2 linked regions of the Homo sapiens genome follow. The protein of the gene in region 1 interacts with the protein of each later gene in a pairwise test. Each region holds a gene or a part of one and is shown on either strand. Other genes may lie near its edges.

Evidence for each region. The genes of interacting proteins can lie anywhere in the genome.
Region 2: the proteins of HCN4 (region 1) and KCNE2 interact in a two-hybrid assay, tested with the Homo sapiens proteins (one study listed by BioGRID).

What each region holds. Positions count from the first base shown.
Region 1 is NC_000015.10:73,365,936-73,373,499, reverse strand, and holds the start of HCN4 (potassium/sodium hyperpolarization-activated cyclic nucleotide-gated channel 4), read left to right. Parts: upstream 1-4,541; 5' UTR 4,542-5,229; coding exon 5,230-6,014; intron 6,015-7,564. UniProt on the Homo sapiens protein: Hyperpolarization-activated ion channel that are permeable to Na(+) and K(+) ions with very slow activation and inactivation. Exhibits higher selectivity for K(+) over Na(+) ions.
Region 2 is NC_000021.9:34,366,988-34,371,894, reverse strand, and holds the end of KCNE2 (potassium voltage-gated channel subfamily E member 2), read right to left. Parts: intron 1,725-4,907; exon of another isoform or gene 1,429-1,724; 5' UTR 1,417-1,428; coding exon 1,045-1,416; 3' UTR 514-1,044; downstream 1-513. UniProt on the Homo sapiens protein: Ancillary protein that functions as a regulatory subunit of the voltage-gated potassium (Kv) channel complex composed of pore-forming and potassium-conducting alpha subunits and of regulatory beta subunits.

The DNA of each region.
Region 1 (7,564 bases):
GAAGTCTATATGTCCCTGATCCCTGTCCAGCCCTACAGAGCAGACCTGCCTTGGGGCAGAGCAGAAGTGCAGGACTGTATCTACACTGAGCAAAAAGATGAAGTGGCATGTATGTATGGATACCACTTGCCACCACCCCCAGCCTTCTCAGAGGGTTTTGAGCACAGGGTCAACGATGTGGCCCTCTGAGTTAGCAGCTGCCTATATAGCAGGGGTGTCCAATCTTTTGGCTTCCCTGGGCCACACTGGAGGAAGAAGAATTGTCTTGGGCCACACATAAAATATACTAACATTAACAATAGCTGATGAGCTAAAAAAATCGCAAAAAAATCTCATAATGTTTTAAGAAAGTTTACAAGTTTGTGTTGGGCTGCATTCAAAGCTGTCCTGGGCTGCATGTGGTCTGTGGGCTGCGGGTTGAACAAGCTTGCTGTAGAGCTTGGGGCCACAGCAAGGTCCTGTCCCAGAGAGAAGGAAGTCTGCCTTCTGGAGACCCAGCCAGGGCTTGTCAGGGATGGAGAGTTCAAAGGAAGGAATCTTGTATAAAACATCCCTTTCATCCCAACAGAAAGTTTTAAGATGATATGACCTAAATTGGATTCCAAAGGCCAGGAGCCTTCCTCTCCATTGGGTAATGCAGGTTTCATTCCATCATTTCATCATTCAGTGTTTACTGAGAACTTACTACAAATGAGATGCTATGCTAGGTGCATTCATTTTCTCATGTAGTCTTAGCAATAACTTTTGAGGTGCATATCATTAAACCCATTTTACACACGAGGAAGATCGAGGCATACACAGGCAGTAACTGACAGAGAAGTACTTAATTCTCCAGCTTTTGTTTTTCAGTTTCATGCTCTATTGTTTACAACAGGGGTTCCCAGACTTTTGGAACTTATAGATCAATAACATTTCAAAAATGATTTTTCGGAACAAACACAGAACCCAGTGCCAACTTTTTATTTAGCCAACGACATTGAAAAAACAGCATCTTCCAGCACCATGATTTCATAAAAGGGCATTTTAACACAGAGAATGTAGCAAGGATATAACCTTAGAATAAAGACAGCCTTCTAAGAAAGGACAGTTGGCAACCTTAACCTAAAATATCCTACATTGTTCTGTGTGTGTGTGTGTGTGTGTGTGTGTGTGTGTGTGTGTGTGTGTGTGTGTGTTTTCATCTCATTTCAAGCAGAACTGGCCAAAACTTTGGCATTGCAGGCTGTGGGAGCCACTGCCCTACCCCAGAGCTGCCTCTCCAAGCAAGAACAATGCCCTCTGCCCATAAGCAAATAAGCTTCCAGAATTTCCCATCCCCCTCTGCCCATCTAGGTCCCCCACAAATAAGGTCTGAGGTTGATTTATACAATCAGCTACATTCTCCACTTCTACTCCCAGCAGGTCTTCTAACTTTCACTGATATTCAGTGTCCGTTCCAGGGAAGGAAACCCATCCTCCCCAGTCCCCTTCTCTCTTAGACTCAGATGTTTTCTACATTTGCATTCCAGGAATATCCAGGCCCGCTGCAGCACTGCAGCAGCCCATTTGTCTCCAAAGTCCCCTAGTCCCCCACCCATGGTGAGAGCAGCAGGTCTTCTCCATATATTTCAGTCCTGAGACAGGGCCTTCCCCTTGCTGGGGTCCCCAGGGCCTGGCTACCATGTTATCAAAGGAACCAGAGCAGACCCCAGGCCTTCTAGGCAGTGCTGGAAAGGAGAGGGTGTGAGACCCAGGTGGAGCAATGGGGAGATTACAGAATGTGGGAGTCCTATTTATTCTCTCCCCATTCTTTACCTTCTCTCTCCTTCTCCTTCCTCCATCTGTGCCTGCCCCCTACCCCACCTGCATGAGCAGATGGGCAGTAGAGCACAGCCTGCCCTGTGGAGCCCTTGAATTCTAGCTTCACCATTTTCTTGCTATGGGGCATTTGGCAAGCCTCTTGACCTCTCTGTGCTTTAGTTCTCTTGCCTGCAAATGGGAGTAAGAATGTCAGGTTGACTCACGTGAAATTGCCAAAATTTGACAATATTGGGCTCACAAAAATCAAAATTTCATGTGGTTTAACAACAAAAAGGTGTAAACTGTAAAGTGTTAGATATATGTCTCTCATCAAGTCTGGCCCCCTCCTCCAGGAAACCCTCCCTAGCTACTCCAAGGCCAGCAATAGCTCCCTCTGAAATCTCTCATGGTTGGGGACATGATTTAATATACATTTCTTTCCTGTCTTCAGTTTTCCTGCTCTATTTTCATGCCCTATTCCTGAGAATGAGTCTAGCTTCCTCACAACTTGAAGCCCATCAAGGGCAAGACCTGGGGCTGCTCCTCCTCTGTCCCCTGGACTGTTGGCACACCACCAGTGTCCTCCATTAGGGTTTCCACATAAAGGAGGCAGGAGAAGCCAGATCTCATCAGGGTTTATCAAGGGCCTGATTTATCTAATAGTCATTGCTGCACCTAAAGTTGGTCCTAGATGGTCGTGAATGGGTGCCACTAATGAAATTGAGGGCGAGTGAGGTGCTGGTAGGGTGGAATTAAGAGATCCTGACCCCTGGCCGGCCTGTGGCAGCAGTATCCCAGGAAGCAGAATTTTGGTCTTATCCTCCATCTCCTCCAAGCATCCCCTCCAATGCCATTAGCTAACTTCTAGGGTCCCTCACTCATTTGTAGAGTTGAAACTTATTAATCTGCTTTCTGTCCACCCTTGTGTTGGTGGAGAGGTCCCTGAGATAAGGTGGACCTGCTCCACCCTCAGGGCACAGACTGCACTGTGTAATCAGTGCTCAGGGTCACAGGAGCTAATGGGCCATGGGAACCAAAGGCAGGGACATGACCAAGGTTTTGGTGATTAGGAAAGGGTTCCCAGAGGAGGAGATGTCTCTACCATAGGTCATGGGGAAGCCTATATGGGCTGACTTCCTGAGCGGGGTTAAGGCAGACTAACTCCCAGCTAGACAAAGAAGCTCAAAGAAGTGTGTTAAATGGAGGTCTTCCCTCCTGTGGCTGGTAGACCAGGGCAGGCTGGGCTCACAGCTCTTTAAGAACACTTCTTCTCAAGGAGACCCAAGGACACTCAGGGATTAGGCTTCCAGCATCTGTGCAGAGAACTGTCAGCTCAGAGCTGCTCAAAAGTAAAAATGCCAGCTACCAGTGATGTCATCACCCTAGTCATTCCTCTCACTGTGGGAGGTCCTGTGGTCCAGTGGGTAGAGCAGAAGAGCCCCTGCTAGGCTGCCCGCCCCGCATCCTGCTCTCCAAATTCCTACTCTGGATGGAGGAGGCGAAAGTGGTCACATTGGGCTAAGAATGAGAGTAAAAAAATCATTTGAAGAAAAACTTGATGTTATTCCTCAGAGAGATGGCAGAGCCAGGGGACCTTTTTGCCTCCCTCCTGTGAGACTTTGCTGTGTGTCCGCTCCAGCATTAACCTCGGCTCCAGCCTTCTCTGGACAACTCCCCTCCCCTTAATGCCCAATCTGTCCCCCTATCCATTTCTGAGCTAATCTGGGGTATCAGGCTGTCCATGGTGTTGGAGGGGGTAGGGCTATACCTTAGGCTGAGCTAGTGAAATCTGTCCATAAGCCCGGACACTGTACACTGGGAGAGACTGGGAGAGAGGACACACAGTTGGATCCTTGGCGGGGGTTGGGGGGAAGGGGGCTGGGCTGCAGACTGGAAGGGAGTGGGGGCTGTGCAGCTGCTTGGGGGTGCAGGTAGGGGACTGGGTGGAACAGGAACTCACCCAGCGTGGGTCCACATAGTAGGTGTCATAATGTGGATGGGAACACAGGGAGAAGGGGCTCCAAAGCCAGTTCCAGAGTGCTGGGGCGTCCGAGGAACCGGCCCAACCGCTCCCCGCTGCAGCCGGCTTGTCCCTTTCTCGGAACTACCGAGGGAGAGGCGCGTGCGGAGGTCGGCGTTCGGATCTCGCATCCGTCACTGTTGCCGGCGCATTTCCTCGAAGTCTTACCTCGAAGGGCTGGGTCCCACCCGCGCGCCCTGTGCGTGTCTCCCTGTTTCCCCACGCCCTCCTTGCCTGGCTGCTGCGAGGCTTTGCAGGGGAAAGACTGGCGCGGGGTTCGCACCCTGCCCATGTCACAGGAAAACCGTGGGAGCCTCCCCGACGCGGCGCATTTCCGGAAGCCCCCTCTCCAGGAGGGTTGCGGGAAGGCCGGGACTCTGCATCCAGACGAACCCGGTCGCCTCCCAAGAGGAAAGTCGGAGACCCAGCTGAGGGGCAAAAATGCCAGGGAAAGGCGAGCCCAGAGCTTGGTGATGGAGAAATTGGGAAGCCACCCCCCACCCTTCAATCTTAGGATGGGGAATTCGCAACTGAAGCCGGAGCTTCAGACTTGGGGCGCACTCCCAGCTTAGCCCAGGAAAGAGATTTAAGGGCGCAGCAGTGTGGATACCTCTCACCCCGGCCCCGAAGGTCTAGCGAGGGTCTAACCTGGGCCCCTTGCCAGGCCCGCCCCCCGCCCCTTTCCAGCCCCCGGCCCGTGCGCCGCTGCCCCTTTAAGAAGCCCAGGTAGGCAGGCCCGGCTGCTGGAGCCGCTCCTATGGCAACCCGCGAGCTGCGGCGGCTTCATGAATATTCCGGGGCGCGGGAGCCCGAGCGCTGCCGGAGGGCGCTTCGGGGGAGGCGGCCGCTGATGTAAGCCCGGCGGGTCGCTGGGCTCCGCTCGGTTGCGGCGGGAGCCCCGGGACGGGCCGGACGGGCCGGGGCAGAGGAGGCGAGGCGAGCTCGCGGGTGGCCAGCCACAAAGCCCGGGCGGCGAGACAGACGGACAGCCAGCCCTCCCGCGGGACGCACGCCCGGGACCCGCGCGGGCCGTGCGCTCTGCACTCCGGAGCGGTTCCCTGAGCGCCGCGGCCGCAGAGCCTCTCCGGCCGGCGCCCATTGTTCCCCGCGGGGGCGGGGCGCCTGGAGCCGGGCGGCGCGCCGCGCCCCTGAACGCCAGAGGGAGGGAGGGAGGCAAGAAGGGAGCGCGGGGTCCCCGCGCCCAGCCGGGCCCGGGAGGAGGTGTAGCGCGGCGAGCCCGGGGACTCGGAGCGGGACTAGGATCCTCCCCGCGGCGCGCAGCCTGCCCAAGCATGGGCGCCTGAGGCTGCCCCCACGCCGGCGGCAAAGGACGCGTCCCCACGGGCGGACTGACCGGCGGGCGGACCTGGAGCCCGTCCGCGGCGCCGCGCTCCTGCCCCCGGCCCGGTCCGACCCCGGCCCCTGGCGCCATGGACAAGCTGCCGCCGTCCATGCGCAAGCGGCTCTACAGCCTCCCGCAGCAGGTGGGGGCCAAGGCGTGGATCATGGACGAGGAAGAGGACGCCGAGGAGGAGGGGGCCGGGGGCCGCCAAGACCCCAGCCGCAGGAGCATCCGGCTGCGGCCACTGCCCTCGCCCTCCCCCTCGGCGGCCGCGGGTGGCACGGAGTCCCGGAGCTCGGCCCTCGGGGCAGCGGACAGCGAAGGGCCGGCCCGCGGCGCGGGCAAGTCCAGCACGAACGGCGACTGCAGGCGCTTCCGCGGGAGCCTGGCCTCGCTGGGCAGCCGGGGCGGCGGCAGCGGCGGCACGGGGAGCGGCAGCAGTCACGGACACCTGCATGACTCCGCGGAGGAGCGGCGGCTCATCGCCGAGGGCGACGCGTCCCCCGGCGAGGACAGGACGCCCCCAGGCCTGGCGGCCGAGCCCGAGCGCCCCGGCGCCTCGGCGCAGCCCGCAGCCTCGCCGCCGCCGCCCCAGCAGCCACCGCAGCCGGCCTCCGCCTCCTGCGAGCAGCCCTCGGTGGACACCGCTATCAAAGTGGAGGGAGGCGCGGCTGCCGGCGACCAGATCCTCCCGGAGGCCGAGGTGCGCCTGGGCCAGGCCGGCTTCATGCAGCGCCAGTTCGGGGCCATGCTCCAACCCGGGGTCAACAAATTCTCCCTAAGGATGTTCGGCAGCCAGAAAGCCGTGGAGCGCGAACAGGAGAGGGTCAAGTCGGCCGGATTTTGGATTATCCACCCCTACAGTGACTTCAGGTAAGGGGCCACAGCGATGATCCTGTGGGTGCCCTGCGCGGTGGCAGGCATGCCTCCTCCTGACCCTGCCTCCCAGCCGGAGTTAACTTTCCTGCCTTGCGCTGGGAGCTCCAAGAGAGGCAGGGCGCCTCTAGGCTCCGAGACACCCCCAGGCCCCCTCCTGCACCGCGCTGGGGGAACTTTCCTCTGGGTTCAGTCACTGGTCTTCTCGGGTCTGGGCTGCATTGGAGACAGAATGAAAAGGTGTTCTGAGCCTGGCCTACCCCTGCCGGCAGCCAGGATAGGGCTCTGCCACCTTAAGCCACATATTCCTCCTCCCCCTTCAAGGCTGCAGAGTCAGGATGGCCATCCTAGAGGCAGCTCCGGGTCATTCAGCCTGCAGAGCAGGGCCGTGAAGAGAGACAGACCTCTTAGCAACGGGCCAGCTCCTTGGGTGCTGACAGCAGGCATTTATGTCTGCTTTCTGGTGCCCTGGGAAGCTGCGGCCGGGTCCCTGGAGGACCGAAGTCACTGGGGCCTCAGGCCGGGATGAAAACCCCCTGCACCCACCGTAACCCTGAGCTCAGCTCCTCATGCTGAGTGGTGGGCCAAGAGCAGGCACCCTGGGCAGCTGGCATCCAGAGCGGCAGGGCTGAATGACCTTGCTCATAGTGATGGGTGAAGATGCCTGGTGTTCTGACTGATGAGCAGCTGTCCTGTGTCCCATGCTTGTCCAGTGGCCCATCCATACCCCAGAGACCCAAGCTCCAGCATCTGCTTGGTCTCTCATGGGCCACTCGTGGGTCCCCAAACAAGGTATGACTGCCAGTCAGGGAGAGGGACCCTGCCCCCTTCCACATCACTTGAGTCGGATGCCACTGAACAGCAGATACCACTGGGAGCTTGTGGGCATATTTGTGCAAAAAGAGGGATTGTTGGTTGTTTCTAGGGTTGGGATCAGGGATGCCTTTACCTAAGTCAAGGTCCTAAGGTTCCCTAGTGCCCCTCTGGGCTTTCGTGATGCATGAGATTGTGATGAAGGTCTGGGAAACACTTTTCAAGCTGGGTTTAATTCTCTCATTCTCTCTTTCTCTGGGCCCTGCCGCCTACTTATCTCCCTTCCTTGCCTACCTTAGTTGCCTGCCTATAAAAATGAGCATTTTGCCAACCCAGAGCCCTCTTTGCAAACTCCAGGGAAGCTGGGTTTGTAATGAGAGCAAAGCCATTTTCCATCCAATGAGAGAGATTTCTCGCACTGGGAATGACCAGTCAGACAACACTCGGTGGCTTAAAATAGGTAGTGAACAGAGCCCCTCCCCCCTTTTTTCCTTTGACAGACTGCTCTTCCTAACCCTAATATCTCCAGGGTTCCCATTCCCAGAAGACTAGGGAGACCAGAGGGCAGGCTAAACAGACAGCCATAGTCATCAAATTGTGTGAGCAAATGTGGGACCCTCCCATCAGGAACGGTGTCTGGGTTCCCAGTGCCAGGTTCCTGAAGAGTGGGCTTGCCTCTGGCCAGTACTGGGCCCTGAGGATCCTGGGCCGAGCTAGAGAGGAGTGAGCAGGGG
Region 2 (4,907 bases), on another chromosome or scaffold:
ATAGAGGAAAACTAAATCAAGTTAAAAGAATACATTTTTAAAGCGACATTATAACTTTTTATTTTTTTTTCTTAAATAATGAGAACTTTTTAAGATTAGTTTTCTGCAAAACTTTAAATGTTAGTTTTAAAATATGTTTTGTTATACTGGGTACTTCTTAAATACTCTACTTCTCTGGTATGGATTATTTGTCCTTTGAAATGTTTGTTCAGGTTCGAGACCAGCCTGGGCAACATAGTGAGACCCTGTTTTTACAAAAAAATACAAAAGTTAGCTGGGTGTGGTGGCACACGTGCCTGTAGTCCCAGCTACTAGGGAGGCTGAGGTGGGAGGATCACTTGAGCCCGGGAGGTTGAGGCTGCAGTGAGCTGAGATTGCACCACTGCACTCCAGGCTGGGTGACAGAGAGAGACCATGTCTCAAAAGAAAAAGAAAAAGAAAAAGAAAAATGTTTGTTCTGTCTTAAGACTTCTAAATAGGTTAAAGGCCAGGAAAACAATAAATGTAAAGTAATCTTATGGTTTGTTTATTCATCTCTTCAGACTCCACACTCATGAATTAATATTACAGATAAATGCTCCTATGTCCGTCTGGTAAGCAAGTGATAGCTTTTGAGCCTCAGCTTCTACATAATACATCTGGGTTATTTATAAATTGAATTTGTCACACACAAATGATGTTTCATGAGAAAGAAGATTCAATGATTTGTAAATCTCTCCTTTCTATCCCCACAGCCACTGCCCAGACACTTTACTTCAAATTTGGCTTTATTTTCATCATTGATATTGATTAAAATGACATTCACTTGCCCGGAAAGTAAAAGAGGTCTTCAGCACAAAATATTGCTCCAACAAGCAAGCATAAATCACTGAGATTGAAATGTCATCTATCTTTATTGGCCAACCACATAATCTCCATGAAAATTCTCAACAGAGAGCAAGGAACTCACTTTCTTCTAAGCAAAGACAATTTGGATTTGCCTCGTGGCACTGGCATCTCTTCATGTCTGGACGTCAGATGTTAGCTTGGTGCCTTTCTCCCTTATCAGGGGGACATTTTGAACCCAGCCGCACCAATGTTCTCATGGATGGTGGCCTTCGATTCTTCTAGATTCAAGATTTGGCTCTTGTACTTTTCCTGCCAGTCCTCTACAATGTACTGGTGGTAGGGGTCATTGGAGTGTTCCCGTCTCTTGGATTTCACAGTGCTCACCAGGATGGCCACGATGATGAAAGAGAACATTCCAATCATCACCATGAGGTACAGGATGACATAGTAGAAGTTCTCAGCATCAACTTTGGCTTGGAGGGCCTCTTGCTCAGCTGTTGTGTTCTGGCGCCAATTGTCCATATAAGTAATAAAAATCCTTCGGAAGACGTCTTCCAGCGTCTGTGTGAAATTGGATAAAGTAGACATGCTTCCCTCCTGCTGCAATTTAAATAATAAAATAGGCGAACAAGGTTAGGAAAACGGATCTTTTCTGGATTTGGCTATGTAAAGGTGGGAGGGAGATGCCAGGGTATAAGTAATAGTATTTCTTCTTAACCTGGCTGGTGATTTAATGCATATTTTGTTAGTCTTTAAACTGACTGCGTACATTTTATTCACTTTTTTTACAATCCATGATTGTTACACAGTAAAAATTTAAATGGCAGAGAAAATTATATATATACACTTTGATATTTATATATGCATGTAAATAAATGTATGTGTACATATGAAAATGGAGAAAATATTAGAAGTACATAGATCAGAATGTTAACAGTGGGTGGTGTGCTTAAAGATATGTATTTTCTTCTTTATGCTTTTCTCATATTCCAAATTTTCATCAGCAGTCTTGCATTACTTTTGTTTTTTAAAAAATTGGTAACCTTACAAGAGCTAGAATAATGCCACATTCATAACAAGCACTCAACAAACGTCAGTGGAATGGACCAATGACTCATTTATGTTCTCTGTTTTTAGAGAATTGTGGGGCATTATGAGATAACATCAAGAGAAAAGATTGCAGGGGGCATTGACAGACTCTCCAATTTGTTCCATCCCCTATGTCTAAGTGGCACATTGTCCCAAGTATCCTAAAGGGAGGGGTGTGTACATCTATATTTGAAAGAAGCATTTTAGGTAAGTGATGCCAAGAAACAATCTGAGAGATTATTCCTATGTTTCAAATCCATCTCTCCTTTTCATCACCACTGGCACCGCCCAGCCTCCAGCATCTCTCACCTGGATAATACAATGCCAACAATGTAATACAACACAACCCTCCCCAGAGCCATCTCTTTGGGGTTATATGTGCCCCTCTCTGCCTTGAATAGCCATCAATGTGCCCTTTTTTTTTTCTTAAGACGGAATCTTGCTCTGTCGTCCAGGCTGGAGTGGGGTGGCACGATCTCTGCTCACTGAAACCTCCGCCTCCCCAGTTCAAGCAATTCTCATGCCTCAGCCTCCCAAGTAGCTGGGATTACAGGCACATGTCACCACGCCTGGCTAACTTTTGTATTTTTGGTAGAGACGGGGTTTCAACACATTGGCCAGGCTGGTCTCGAACTCCTGACTTCAGGTGATCCACCCGCCTCAGCCTCCCAAAGTGCTGGGATTACATGTGTCAGCCACCGTGCACAGCCAATGTGCCTTTTTGAAGAGGGAAATTATAGTGCAATTTGTTTGCTTTTAAAATGATGCGATGGTTGTTCTTAAAATCAAGTCCTAATTCCTTAACAGTATTTACCCCATTGGCTGAGCAGGCTCCTGACCACCTCCTCAGTTACCCTTTGCTCACTACAGTTCGGTCACACCTGACATCTTCCCTCCCTGTCAGTAAGCTCTCTTTCCTCGGGACATTATCACATCCTATTCTCTCAACCTAGAATGCCTTTGCCTTTCTCTTCCACCTGCTACCTCCTCGTTCTTTAGGTTCCAGCTAGTTGTCACTTCTGAGACTTCCCTGGTTCTACTCTAAATCACTTCCCACCACCACCACCATTTTCCTCCAACAGCATCTCCTTTTTCTTCAAAAGCACACATCACATATGCAGTCACTAAATGTGTGTGTATATATTCATATTACTTTTGTTTAAAAAAAATTGGTAACCTCACACCAGCTAGAATAATGCCATATTTATAACAAGCACTCAACAAATGTCAGTTAAATGGAGCAATGACTCATTTATATTCTGTTTTCAGAGAATTATATACGTGTGCTTTTTTATACATCTCTGTTTTTAGAGAATTGTGGGGCTTTAGACATAACATCAAGGCAAACGATTGCAAGGCAAAAATTTTTTGTTTTTTTGAGACGGAGTCTCGCTCTGTCACCCAGGCTGGAGTGCAGTGGCGCGATCTTGGCTCACTGCAACCTCTGCCTCCCAGGTTCAAGTGATTCTCCTGTCTCAGCCTCCCAAGTAGCTGGGACTACAGGCAACCGCCACTACGCCTGGCTAATGTTTTGTATTTTTAGTAGAGACGGGGTTTCGCCATGTTAGCCAGGATGGTCTCGATCTCGTGACCTCGTGATCCACCTGCCTCGGCCTCCCAAAGTGCTGAGATTACAGGTGTGAGCCACCGCTCCCGGCCAAGATTTTTTAATACATACATACATACATATATATAACATACATATATATAACATACATATATATATATATATATATATATATATATATTGTGTGTGTGTGTGTGTGTGTGTGTGTGTGTGATTATTGGTTTAGGGGCTCATCTTTTCCACTCGGCTGTCATGTCTGCCAACTTTGTCTAGCTCGGTATAGCAGATGTCTAACACATAGAAGGCACTCAATGGACATTTGATGCATGAATTAAAGTGCCAGGTACTATGCTAGGCGATGAAACTGCAGAGGTGACAGGAACTCTGTGAGAGGCTCAGTTGAATGGGAGAGACCAAATCAATGACAATGCAACGTGCAAAGAGTTGCAACAGGTATGGACAAAAAGATAAGGGGGCTCAGAAAATGGAGCTGAACACGGTTCATAGATGGGGCAAGTGGGTTTCAACACAGCTAGAAGGAGCACAGGCAGGAGGTAAACCTGTGACTAGCCACTAGTAAAAGCCCCAGGATCCCAGCAGTGGGTTTGCCTGCTGCCGTTCTAAAGACATGCCCGTCTCTTTAGCATGTGACTTTTCTTTCCTTCATGAAAAGAGAATCAGATCTCCCCATCTGGGAAAGGAATTTCAATCAGCTGAATAATCAAACCTACTAAACAAATAAACTTGCAGGCATTCTCCCACAGAACATCCCTCCCCAGGATTTTCCTCATTGAGAATTACCATCACCAAGATAATATACTCTTCTCTGTCTGATGTTTTAAGTTCTATTATTTAGAGAGCTCTAAGATCTTTGTCTCCCTCTCCTGGCCACACAGGCTAGTGGGTTGGAAGGAAACTTAACAAATAGATAAGATTGCCCCAGGGTATATACCAAGCATATTTCCTAAGCAATGTAACAGAGATGTGCTTTTTCCCCTTTAAAATGATATAGTCTGCTGTGAAAGTTAGCTGAGCTGGCTTTAATCCACTCAAGACTTTGCCACTGGCTCTTTTACCCTTTTATTTTCATTTTATTTTTTATTAACTCTTTTTTAAAATAAAAAAGTAGTGATGAGGTCTCACTATGTTGTTAAACTCCTAGGCTCAAGTGATCCCCCTGCTTCAGCCTCCCAAGGTGCTGGGATTACAGGTTTGAGCCACCATGCCAGACTTTTTTTTTTTTTTTTTTTTGAGATGGGGTCTGGCTCTGTGAGTATAGTCTTTTTCTCTTGTAGGAAGCCCAGCCGGTTGTTACCAATCCATAGTACTTTCCCTGACCTCCCCAGGTCTAGGCAGAGACCCTTTTTCTGCCCCTTCTGCAAATGACCATGTTAGTTTTGTTTTTTTCCTTTTTTTTTTTTTT